Linked DNA regions of Homo sapiens. The protein of the gene in region 2 interacts with the protein of the main gene of each other region in a pairwise test. Each region holds a gene or a part of one and is shown on either strand. Other genes may lie near its edges.

Region 1 (4,432 bases), on a different chromosome or scaffold from region 2:
TGAAAGGGTAGGTAAGTGTGCTTCCGAGAGGACGTGTTAAAACAGCTAAATCCTCACCTACCATATCAATAAGCTAGTAGATAGAGTCTGTAATGAAAAAGATAAAAGAACAGTTGAAAGAATGTTACTGAATAATAAAATACCACTTTGTACCCACTAGGAAGACTATAACAAAAAGACAGACAAAAGCTAGGTGCAGTGGCTCATGCCTGTAATCCCATCAACTTGGGAGGTGGAGGTGGGAGGATCACTTGAGGCCAGGAGTTCACGACCAGCCTGGGCCATACAGCGAGACCCAGTCTCTACAAAAAATAAAATTAGCTGGGCATGATGGTGTGGGCCTTTGTCTCAGCTACTTGGGATGCTCATACTGGGGATCATCTGAGCCCAGGAGTTCAAGGTTCCAGTGAGCTATGATTGTACTACTGCACTGGCCTGGGCAACAGAGTGAAACCCTGTCTCTAAAAATATTTTTCTAAAAAAATCAGACAGACAATAACAAGTGCTGATGCTATTCACAACAGCAAAGACATGGTAACAACCCAGCCCATCAGCAGTGGATTGGATACAGAAAATATGTTACACATACACCATGGAATACTACACAGCCATAAAAAAGAATGAAATCATGTCCTTTGCAACAATATGGATACAGCTGGAAGCCATTATCCTAAGCAAACTAAAGCAGAAACGGAAAACCAAACATCATATGTTCTCACTTACAAGTGGGAACTAAACACTGGGTACACATGGAAATAAAGATGAGAACAACAGACACTGGAGAATATAAGAGGGAGAGTGGAGGGAGGAGGGCAAGGGTTGAAAACCTACCTATTGGGTACTATGCTCATTACCTGGGTGATGAGTTCAATCATACCCCAAACCCCAGCTCACACAATATACCCTTTTTTTTTTTTTTGAGATAGAATTTTGGTCTTGTTGCTCAGGCTGGAGTGCAATGACGCAATCTCAGCTCACTACAACCTCCGCCTCCCAAGTTCAAGCAATTCTCCTGCCTCAGCCTCCCAAGTAGTTGGGACTACAGGCACGCAAAACCATGCCCGGCTAATTTTTGTATTTTTAGTAGAGACAAGGTTTCACCATGTTGGCCAGGCTGGTCTCGAACCACTGACCTTAGGTGATCCACCTGCTTCGGCCTCCCAAAATGCTGGCTGGGATTACAGGTGTGAGCCACGGCGCCTGGCATACCCTTGTAACAAACCTGCGCATATACTCCTTGAATTTAAAATAAAAGTTGAAAAAATAAATAAATAAATAAATAAGAAAAACCCAGAAGCAGTGTAAAGAGCAAAAACAAAAAACTTGCAGTTCAGAGCTGGAGATAATGTCTTTGAGCCAAAAGCCAATCACTTTATGATTATAATGTAGAACAGCTTAAAATGATTTTTCCCCCTAAAGTTGAAATAAAGATGTTAAAAAAATCCATCACTTAAAATGAAAGGCATTATATAAAATTATATCTAGATCAGTGAGCAAAAAGATTACGTAACTTTGAGAGACTGTAATGTGCAGATTCACCCACAATACATGTCCACTGTCCTCAATGAGTCACTGGCAAGTACAGTTCTGTAACTATGCTCATCTGTTACAGGTAAATTCTCCAACTGTCTATTGTCCAATTATAACAGCTTCAAATTCACAATTTAGAACCTGTAACCTCCAGTGATTTTGTCAATTGTTAAGCCATGTCACCCATACAGATGCCTCCCCTATGGGACAAAGGAGAAGATGACCTAAAATTGACAAATTTCCCTTAAGGGAAAGGTTGTAAAACCGGGCATAAACTTAGTAAAATCAGGGTCCACTGTCCGTAAGACTAGTTTGTTTTTCGTATAGAAAGGAAGTTCTTTTAGTAATTGCAGAGAAGATTGAATTACAGACTCACTTAAAAAAAAAAACTAGCAGAAATAACTCTGATTCAATTAGCCATTTTGTTTCATTTTTTTAATTCTTCAAAGACCTCCAAGTGATATCATGAAGCCTCATCTTAATATCTAACCAAGTTTGTACTGAAAAAAGACCAGCCATTAGAAAACAGCTTGCAAAATTATTTTACGAACTACTGGATTGGCATGTTATTTATCAAACTTATGTGCTTCATCAAAAAGATTCAATGTTCAGATTATTTTTTTGAGATGAGGTCTTGCTACGTTGCACAGGTTGGACCAAAACTCTTGGGCTCAAGCAATCTGCCCACCTCAGCCTCCCAAGTAGCTGGGACTACAGGTGCACACCACCACACCTGGCTAAATGCTCGGATTTAAGCAAAATTACTCATTGGCTGATATGATGAAGCCAACACAAACAACAATAATGTATCTCAACAGTTATATAACACATAAGAAAAATGGACTGTAAATTTAGGAGCTAAAGCTGTAAAAAAAAAAAAAAAAACTGACGATAGCTCTTAAATTCCAATAAACACAACCTGAGCAACTCTTTCAAATAGCAGTGGCCTCTTTTTTAATTTTTCTTCTCTTTCTTCTAGTTCTCGTTGGTATTCTCTCATCCTTTCCTTTTCGCTCTTTCTAAAATTAAAGAAAAGCAATGGAATTTTAAAAGATCATCTAAGAAATAAGAACTTACATATGTAACATTTAACTTATCAACTTGTACAAAGTCAATGAAAAAAAAGAAATAACATTTAGCTTAGCTGACAAATCAGAAATTATAAGCACAGTTCACAGTTTACCTCGATTCCTCTTCTATACCGGTTAATTCTCATGGAATGCAGAATAAAATCCTAGGTTCTGAGATCACACATATTATGCTCTAGGAATAGTCTGGACACTTTAATTTCTGAAATCCTCAAGGCATAAATATTTTAAGGGACTTCAAACTGCCCTGAAAAGATGAATGAAAGTCCTCTTGTCTCATTTATAAGTGTATAAAACCAAGAAAATTTTGGAACAAATTAGCTATCTTCTCTGTAAGGAATTTCTCCTGAAAACAAGACTTTGCTCTTATTTTTTATTATTATTTTATTGTTGTTGTTATTTACTTTTGTTTTGAGATGGAGTCTCATTCTGTTGCTCAGGCTGGTGCGGTGGCACAATCTCAGCTCACTGCAACTTCTACCTCCTGGGTTCATGCAATTCTCGTGCCTCAGCTTCCCGAATAGCTGAGATTACAGGTGTGCACCACCATGCCTGGCTAATTTTCTGTATTTTTAGTAGAGATGAGGGTTTCACCATGTTGGCCAGGCTGGTCTTGAACTCCTGACCTCAGGTGATCTGCCTGTCTTGGCCTCTCAAAGTGCTGGGATTACAGGCATGAGCCATTGCGCCTGGCCTATTAATTTTGAGACAGGTTCTCACTTTGTTGTCCAGGCTGGAGTGCAGTGGTGCAATCATGGCTGACTGCAGCTTTGACTTCCTGGGCTCAAATGATCCTCCCACCTTAGCTCTCGAGTAGGTGGAACTACAGGGGCATGCCACCACACCTGGCTAATTTTTTTAAATTTTTTGTAGAGATGGGGGTCTCATTATGTTTACCAGGCTGGTCTCAAACTCCTGGGCTCAAGCAATCTTCCTGCCTTGTACTCCTGAGGTGTTGGGATTACAGATGTGAGCCATGGCATCCAGCCTTTGCTGTTATTTTTTTCCCCTAAATAAGATCTCCTACAGGTTAGTGGCAAAGTTAATTCAATGGGAGCAAGTCAAAGGAGAAGTAAAGAGCATGGGAATACAACATAAAGAGAAACAGGAACCAAAATATATAAATTTACCGTAAGTGTTCTCACTGTTTGAGCAAGATCCTATAATAAATTAAACTACACTATTTTCTCTATGTAAGATATAATTGCTACCAAGATAAATAAGATTAATGGATTGGGGAAAATAATTATACTTTTAAATGATAATTAGGCTTAATTATACACAAGTTGGTGTTATGAAAAAGCTATTGTCCAGGCACGGTGGCTCACGCCTGTAATCCCAGCACTTTGGGAGGCCAAGGTAGGCAGATCACCTGAGGTCAGGAGTTTGAGACCAGCTTGGCCAACATGGCAAAACCTCATCTCTACCAAAAATACAAAAATTAGCTAGGCGTGGTGGTGAGCACCTGTAATCCCAGCTACTCTGTAAGCTGAGGCAGGAGAATCGCTTGAACTCGGGATCCAGCCTAGGTGACAGAGCGAGACTCTGTCTCAAAAAAATAAATAAATAAAAAATAAAAAGCTATTAATAGTTTACTTCCTAAGGGTAAGTAATCTATTTCTAAGAAACATTATGCTCACGTTCATCAAATTAAGCTCCCTTTATCAATGGATTAAAGCTAAATTATAAAAGAATACTCATTGTAATTAAAAGCACATATGCATATTTAGAAATCAGATTAAAAAGTAATAAATCACATTACTTACCTGGCTTTGAGGGAGATAGTTTCCTACTTAAACATCAACATTTTTATG
Region 2 (5,829 bases):
ACAGAACGAGCCTCTCTGTCTCAAAAAATAATAGTGATAATAAAATAGGTAAACTCTAGAGATAATAAACAACTTGAAAGCAACAATTTATAGTAGAAAATATTCTTTTAACTCCAATTCAGAAAGCTACTGACATTAGATAGACAAATTATCAAATCCTTCTGGGCCACAGTTTATTCATCTGAAAAATGAAGGGGTTCCATCAGTTTCTAATTCTATTCTATTAGAGCATAGTCTATTCTACTAGATCTATTCGTAACTTCTCTATGAGAAATGGGACTTCTTATTATTCACACTATATGGTCTATTCTAATTCTTACATCGCGAGAATCTAGAAATGAATTTCATGATAAAAATACTGGTTGCTTGCTTTAAAACTTAAGAGTAAAATATGGATCTCACTTGAACAAAAACTTGAAGTCCAAATACAACAACAAACTGAATAATAAGTATTTATTAACTATCTAATGTTGGGGCTCAGGACATACCTCCCCAGAATATGACTGAAGGAGACCAGAATATGTGACCCCAAAATATGCCTCCTTTGCACATTTTGAGAAAGTGTAGACATAGGAGTAGCTCTGAAAAGTTACCTTTTTAAAGATAAATTTGTGCCTATACAAGAAATCTCTGCTTATAAGGGCATCTCCCTCTCTGCAACAGGAGGAGATGACTAAGTAAAGAAGACATCGACTTACATCTTCATAACAAACTTCACCTTCATTTAAGGTGCTTTTCCTGGCCATCTCATCTTAACAGGGTTGTTCCCCACAACCTTTTTTACTTTGTTTCAGAGAATGATGGTATTTAAGCCCAAAATTTAAATGCTTTCTTTGAGATCTACTCTAGAGACTTGCTCATTTCTCTGGGGTTTTCCCGTGTATACATGAGGCATACATATTAATACACTTCTGTTTTTCTTCTGTTAATTTGTCTTTTGTTACAGGGAGCCTCAGATAAGAGTTATGAAGGACAGAGAAAATTATTACTTTTTCCTTCTCTACACTACCTTGTTTTTCTTGGTGTTTTTTTTTGTTTTGTTTTGTTTTCTTTTTTTTTTTGAGATGGAGTCTTACTCTGTCACCCAGGCTGGAGTGCAGTGACACAATCTCAGCTCACTGCAACCTCCACCTCCTGGGTTCAAGTGATTCTCCTGCCTCAGCCTCCCAAGGAGCTGGGACTACAGGTGTGCATCACCATGCCCAGCTAATTTTTGTATTTTTTAGTAGAGTCAGGGTTTCACCATATTGGACAGGCTGGTCTCGAACTCCTGACTTCATGATCTGCCCGTCTCGGCCTCCCAAAGTGCTGAGATTACAGGCATGAGCCACAGCGCCCAGCCTTTTCTTGTTTTTTTTTTTTTTTTTTTTTTTTTTGAGACGGGGTCTTGCTCTGTTGCCCAGGCTGAAGTACAGTGGCATGAACATGGCTCACTGCAGCCTTGACCTCATGGGCTCAAGTGATCCTTCTGCCTCAGCCTCTTGGGTAGCTGGGACCACAGGCACGCACCACCATGCCCAGCTAATTTTTTAATTTTTTATAAAGTTGGGATCTTGCCATGTTGCCCAGCCTGGTCTCAAACTGCTGGACTCAAGCAATCCTCCTGCCTCAGCCTCCCAAAGTGATGGGATTATAGGTGTGAACCACTGCACCTGGCCCACTATCCCGTTAAACAAACAAACAAACTTTAATTGAGAGGCCATTAGGCTGAGGCAATGACAGAGCTCTAGAAGGTCCCACATAAGCAAACTAAAGTCCAATGTAAACAGTAAAACCATACTAGACTTTATCAATCAGAAACTGCCAACTATTCCCTAACTCGGAACTTTCCACTCTAACCAATTTAAATGTCTTTTGTCTTACTTTCATGTTCAGCCTATAAAAGCTCACTGCCCTTGCTGCTAGAATGGGGCTCACTAACCTCCAATGGTTCTGAGTGCTGCGTAATTCATGAGTCATTCTTTGCTCAAACAAACTCCTTGTTTTTTTTGTTTTTTTTCTGAGACAAGGTCTCTCACTCACATCGCCCAGGCTGGAATGCAGGGGCATCATCACAGCTCACTGCAGCCTCAACTTCCCAGGTTCAGGTGATTCTCTCACCTCAGCCTCCCAAGTAGCTGGGACGACAGGCATGCAGCACCATGCCCGGCTACTTCTTTGTAGAGACGGCATTTTGCCATGTTGCCCAGGCTGGTCTTGAACTCCTGGGCTCAAATGATCTGTCCACCTTGGTCTCCCAAAGTGCTGGGATTCCAGATGTGAGCCACTGTGCCTGCTCCAACTCTTTAATATTTTAATATCCCTAGGTTTATCTCTTAATGATCCTAATTCTTTCCCCCATCTTAGACCCCAAAGTGTGTGGCCCCAGGCCTGGATCATATTTAGTTGCTCAGTTATTTCTTATAGTCAGGAAAATCAGAATTTCCTTGTGCTTTTGATTTCAGTAGCTCAGCCAGCTTCACCAGCAAGCACATCCACATATCTGGATTCTCAGACCACTGGGCACTGAAACAGAGCAGTTAATCCCCATACCCATGCTGAGGAAATAACACGCATCACATCTTTTAAAATATCATATACACAATGGATCATTTGAGTAAATTTAATACTAGGATCATTTGAGTAATTTTAATACTGCTCTATAGACAATTCAGTGGTACCCTAAACACAATTAATTTCTACATAGATATTATTAACTTTTCAGCTAGTATTAGTAAAATTAATAAAATTAGGTACGTGATTTAATTATTTTATCTGAATAATGTTTTGTTTTTTGTTTTAGACACTATTATTAGAACACTAGGCTGTGACATGTCATTAAATAACAATTAAAAAATCAACACATACAGCAAATTATTTTTTGTAGTGGTTACTCACCTGAGCGCTCTTACCACATTTAGCATCTCCTGAAACAATCACGATTTGATTTTGAAGCAGGTTCTCCATAAAGGAGTATTTTTCTTTCCATATAGGAAGATCTTCTCTTTCTTTCAGAAGTTTATAATAACGTGATGAATATGGCAATCCATCAAAGGGGTTAAGTTCCAAATCCTCACAGGCCAAAACCTCTTCCTCATCCCCATCGCTGGAATCCAGGGATTCAGGAAAATAGCGTTTTTCAGAGGAAGAGTTTGGACACTCCAGCCCTTCTTCTTCCATCTTGTCTGACAGTGAGCTCACGCAGCTGACATTCCACAAGCAAGTTTCTCCTATCAGTAACCCATTGCAAACAGGGCTTAAAAGCCTATTTATACAAACCCGTATGTTCCAATCTCTAAGACTTCAGTTCAAGGTTTTAGCAAGTTAAATTCCTCAAACCTGCATCTGTTCTCCGTTGCTGTGTTACCCACTGTGCTGGCTCACTACAGCACTCTTCGGCATTGTAAATGATTGTCAATAAACCACACTAAGAAACAAACAAACAAAAAGAGTAAGGAAAATTAGGAACACATATAAGTTAAAAAGAAAATGCACAGGAGTTCAAATGAAAAGCATTATTTTTTTTTTTTCTGTTAACGGGTTTCTGTCATTTCTGCTGCCTGCTTAAAAGAACAGGAATAATTTAGGCTGGTGTTTAAAGTTTGGTGGGTTCCGGTATTTCCTGGCTGGTTCAGAAAATGATTCTGCACTGGGCCTCGTGCTCTCTGCCTGACCTCTATCTCAGGCTCTGCGTCTTGATCAACTGTGAATGGAAAGCAACAGGAGGGACAGGATTGTGATTGTGAGGCTAATCAATCACGTGGTCACCTAATCCCATGTCAAAAGAGGAGCTGGACCCTATAAAAGGAAAGAACTGTGATGACCTGGTGAGTGTTCCTCTAACACAGGCTACAGGAAAATCTATTATTAAGAAATCCTTTACTTTAATGAAAAACATTTTTAAAACTTTTCATTTTCCTTTTGCTTATGTCAGTTTAGAAAGCCAAGTGAGGGGAATGAATTTATTATTTCCTTCCATATGTAGTTATGGTTGGCTTTTATTTTATATATATATAAAAAAGACAGGGTCTCGCTCTGTCACCCAGGCTGGATGCAGTGGCGTGATCATGGCTCACTGCAGCCTCAACCTCCCAGGCTGTTTTCCCCCTGCCTCAGCCTCCTGAGTAGCTGGGACTACAGGTGTACACCACTATGTCCAGCTAATTTCTGTATTTTTTTGTAGAGACGGAGTTTTGCCTTGTTGCCCAGGCTAGTTTCGAACTCCTGGGCTCAAGTGGTCTGTCCTCCTTGGCCTCCCAAAGTGCTGGGATTTCAAATGTGAGCCACCATGCCCAGCTGGCTGGCTTTTATTAATAAGGTCTTTTGTTTAATTAAACCAGAAATCTCTAGCATATTTCTTGAGATTCCTGGGTCTTGAGCCCAACATGTCAGCTCCAAGAGGCCATTAAGGACAACTTTTAATTTAAATGAAGAAGAGAAATCACCCAAGAAAGAGCAAGATTTATACCAATAACTCAGTCCCCACATGTCAGGTGAAGGGTCTTTCCCCTTCCAATTACTAGTGATTAAAAAGAAAAATTCCATTAGTGTTGCTGGAAATAAGCTCCTTTTCACATTAACCAGATAAAAATGAAAAAGAAAACTCAAGTTAAAAAGAATAATAAAATACAGTTCATGATATTTTGTAAGTTACTGCACTTTTCGGATCACCTGGTTTACCTTAATTATTGCTTTAGATGGTTGGAGCCAGTGTGCTCAACAGCTAGTTCCTAATTAGTAAGTGATAAGAAAAGCTCTCTCTCTATTGGTCAAGACAGGCTCCAGGGCAACAGTCAATCACTCAAAAAACATTTGCTGAGTGTCTTCTAAGGGCTTATTAGATGAGTAAACTAGGCACTAGATACACACATAAAGGATATTTTGAAGATGGCAGCAAGAGCAGGATAGAAAGTTTTAAAATTCACAGATGAACAAGCTAGTTTAGAGGTAAGTAACCAGAGAGGCAGAAGAACTTCATAGCTCTTCCCAAGTAAAGTTCTTAAAAATTCATCTAAAAGCCAGTGTTTCAAAATTAAAATGGAATTACAAAGGCATAATAGAAATGTTGTAATATGGATTCACTTCAGAACTCTTCACTGCCTCTATAAGGTGAGAGTAGACCCACAGAATAGCTCCAGGAAGCATGGTAGCTTGAGATCATCGCACAAGCTAATTCTGGGAAGGTATCCAAGAATCAGAAAATTCCACTCTTCAGAGAAGTTAAAATTTAATTTTATATTCTATTTTTCTTTTGTTCTGATTAGAATCCCTTCCAAGGGTTCTCAGCCTACATGTAAATTAAATTGCTATTAAATATTATAACCAATGATTGCCTTAGGTAGTATTTCTTAACTGTTTTACCTTAAAAAAAGAACAGCTATTATTTTTACCAAAAAGAAATGTTTCTCTTATTTATAATACTCCCTAAGAGTGTAATAATCTTATAATTACAGTAAATTCTTACTTATAAAGCACTGACCACTTTGAACCCTGAGGAAATAATCAAGTTTTCTGAATAGTCTTCTTTCTAAAGACCTGAGACTTACCTGGCCCCTTCATCACACATTGTGCAATGTATCCACACACATTAGCCTTAACCACTTCTCTGTTATAGTGGAATTAAAGATGGCCACAGATTATTTGCCACTGTTCCAAATGGAGAGGTAGAGTCTATTTCCTCTCCCCTTGAATCTGAGCTGGCCCTGTGACCAGTGTCACTATGACTAAAATAATGCAGTTAAGTGATACTGAATCACTTCCAAGATATTCCCATGCTTGAAACACTCCTCTTTAGAACCAGCTGTCATTCTATGAGGTACCCACGCCCAAGCCACCGGGAAGAGACCAAAG

What was found. Proteins that work in one complex are often made in the same cells at the same time.
Region 1: the proteins of DHX32 (region 2) and FAM161A interact in binary tests that used the Homo sapiens proteins (3 or more experiments, as listed by UniProt).

What each region holds. Positions count from the first base shown.
Region 1 is NC_000002.12:61,833,561-61,837,992, forward strand, and holds part of FAM161A (protein FAM161A), read right to left. Parts: exon of another isoform or gene 4,385-4,432; intron 2,550-4,384; coding exon 2,450-2,549; intron 1-2,449. UniProt on the Homo sapiens protein: Involved in ciliogenesis.
Region 2 is NC_000010.11:125,877,666-125,883,494, forward strand, and holds the start of DHX32 (putative pre-mRNA-splicing factor ATP-dependent RNA helicase DHX32), read right to left. Parts: upstream 3,628-5,829; 5' UTR 3,160-3,627; coding exon 2,878-3,159; intron 1-2,877.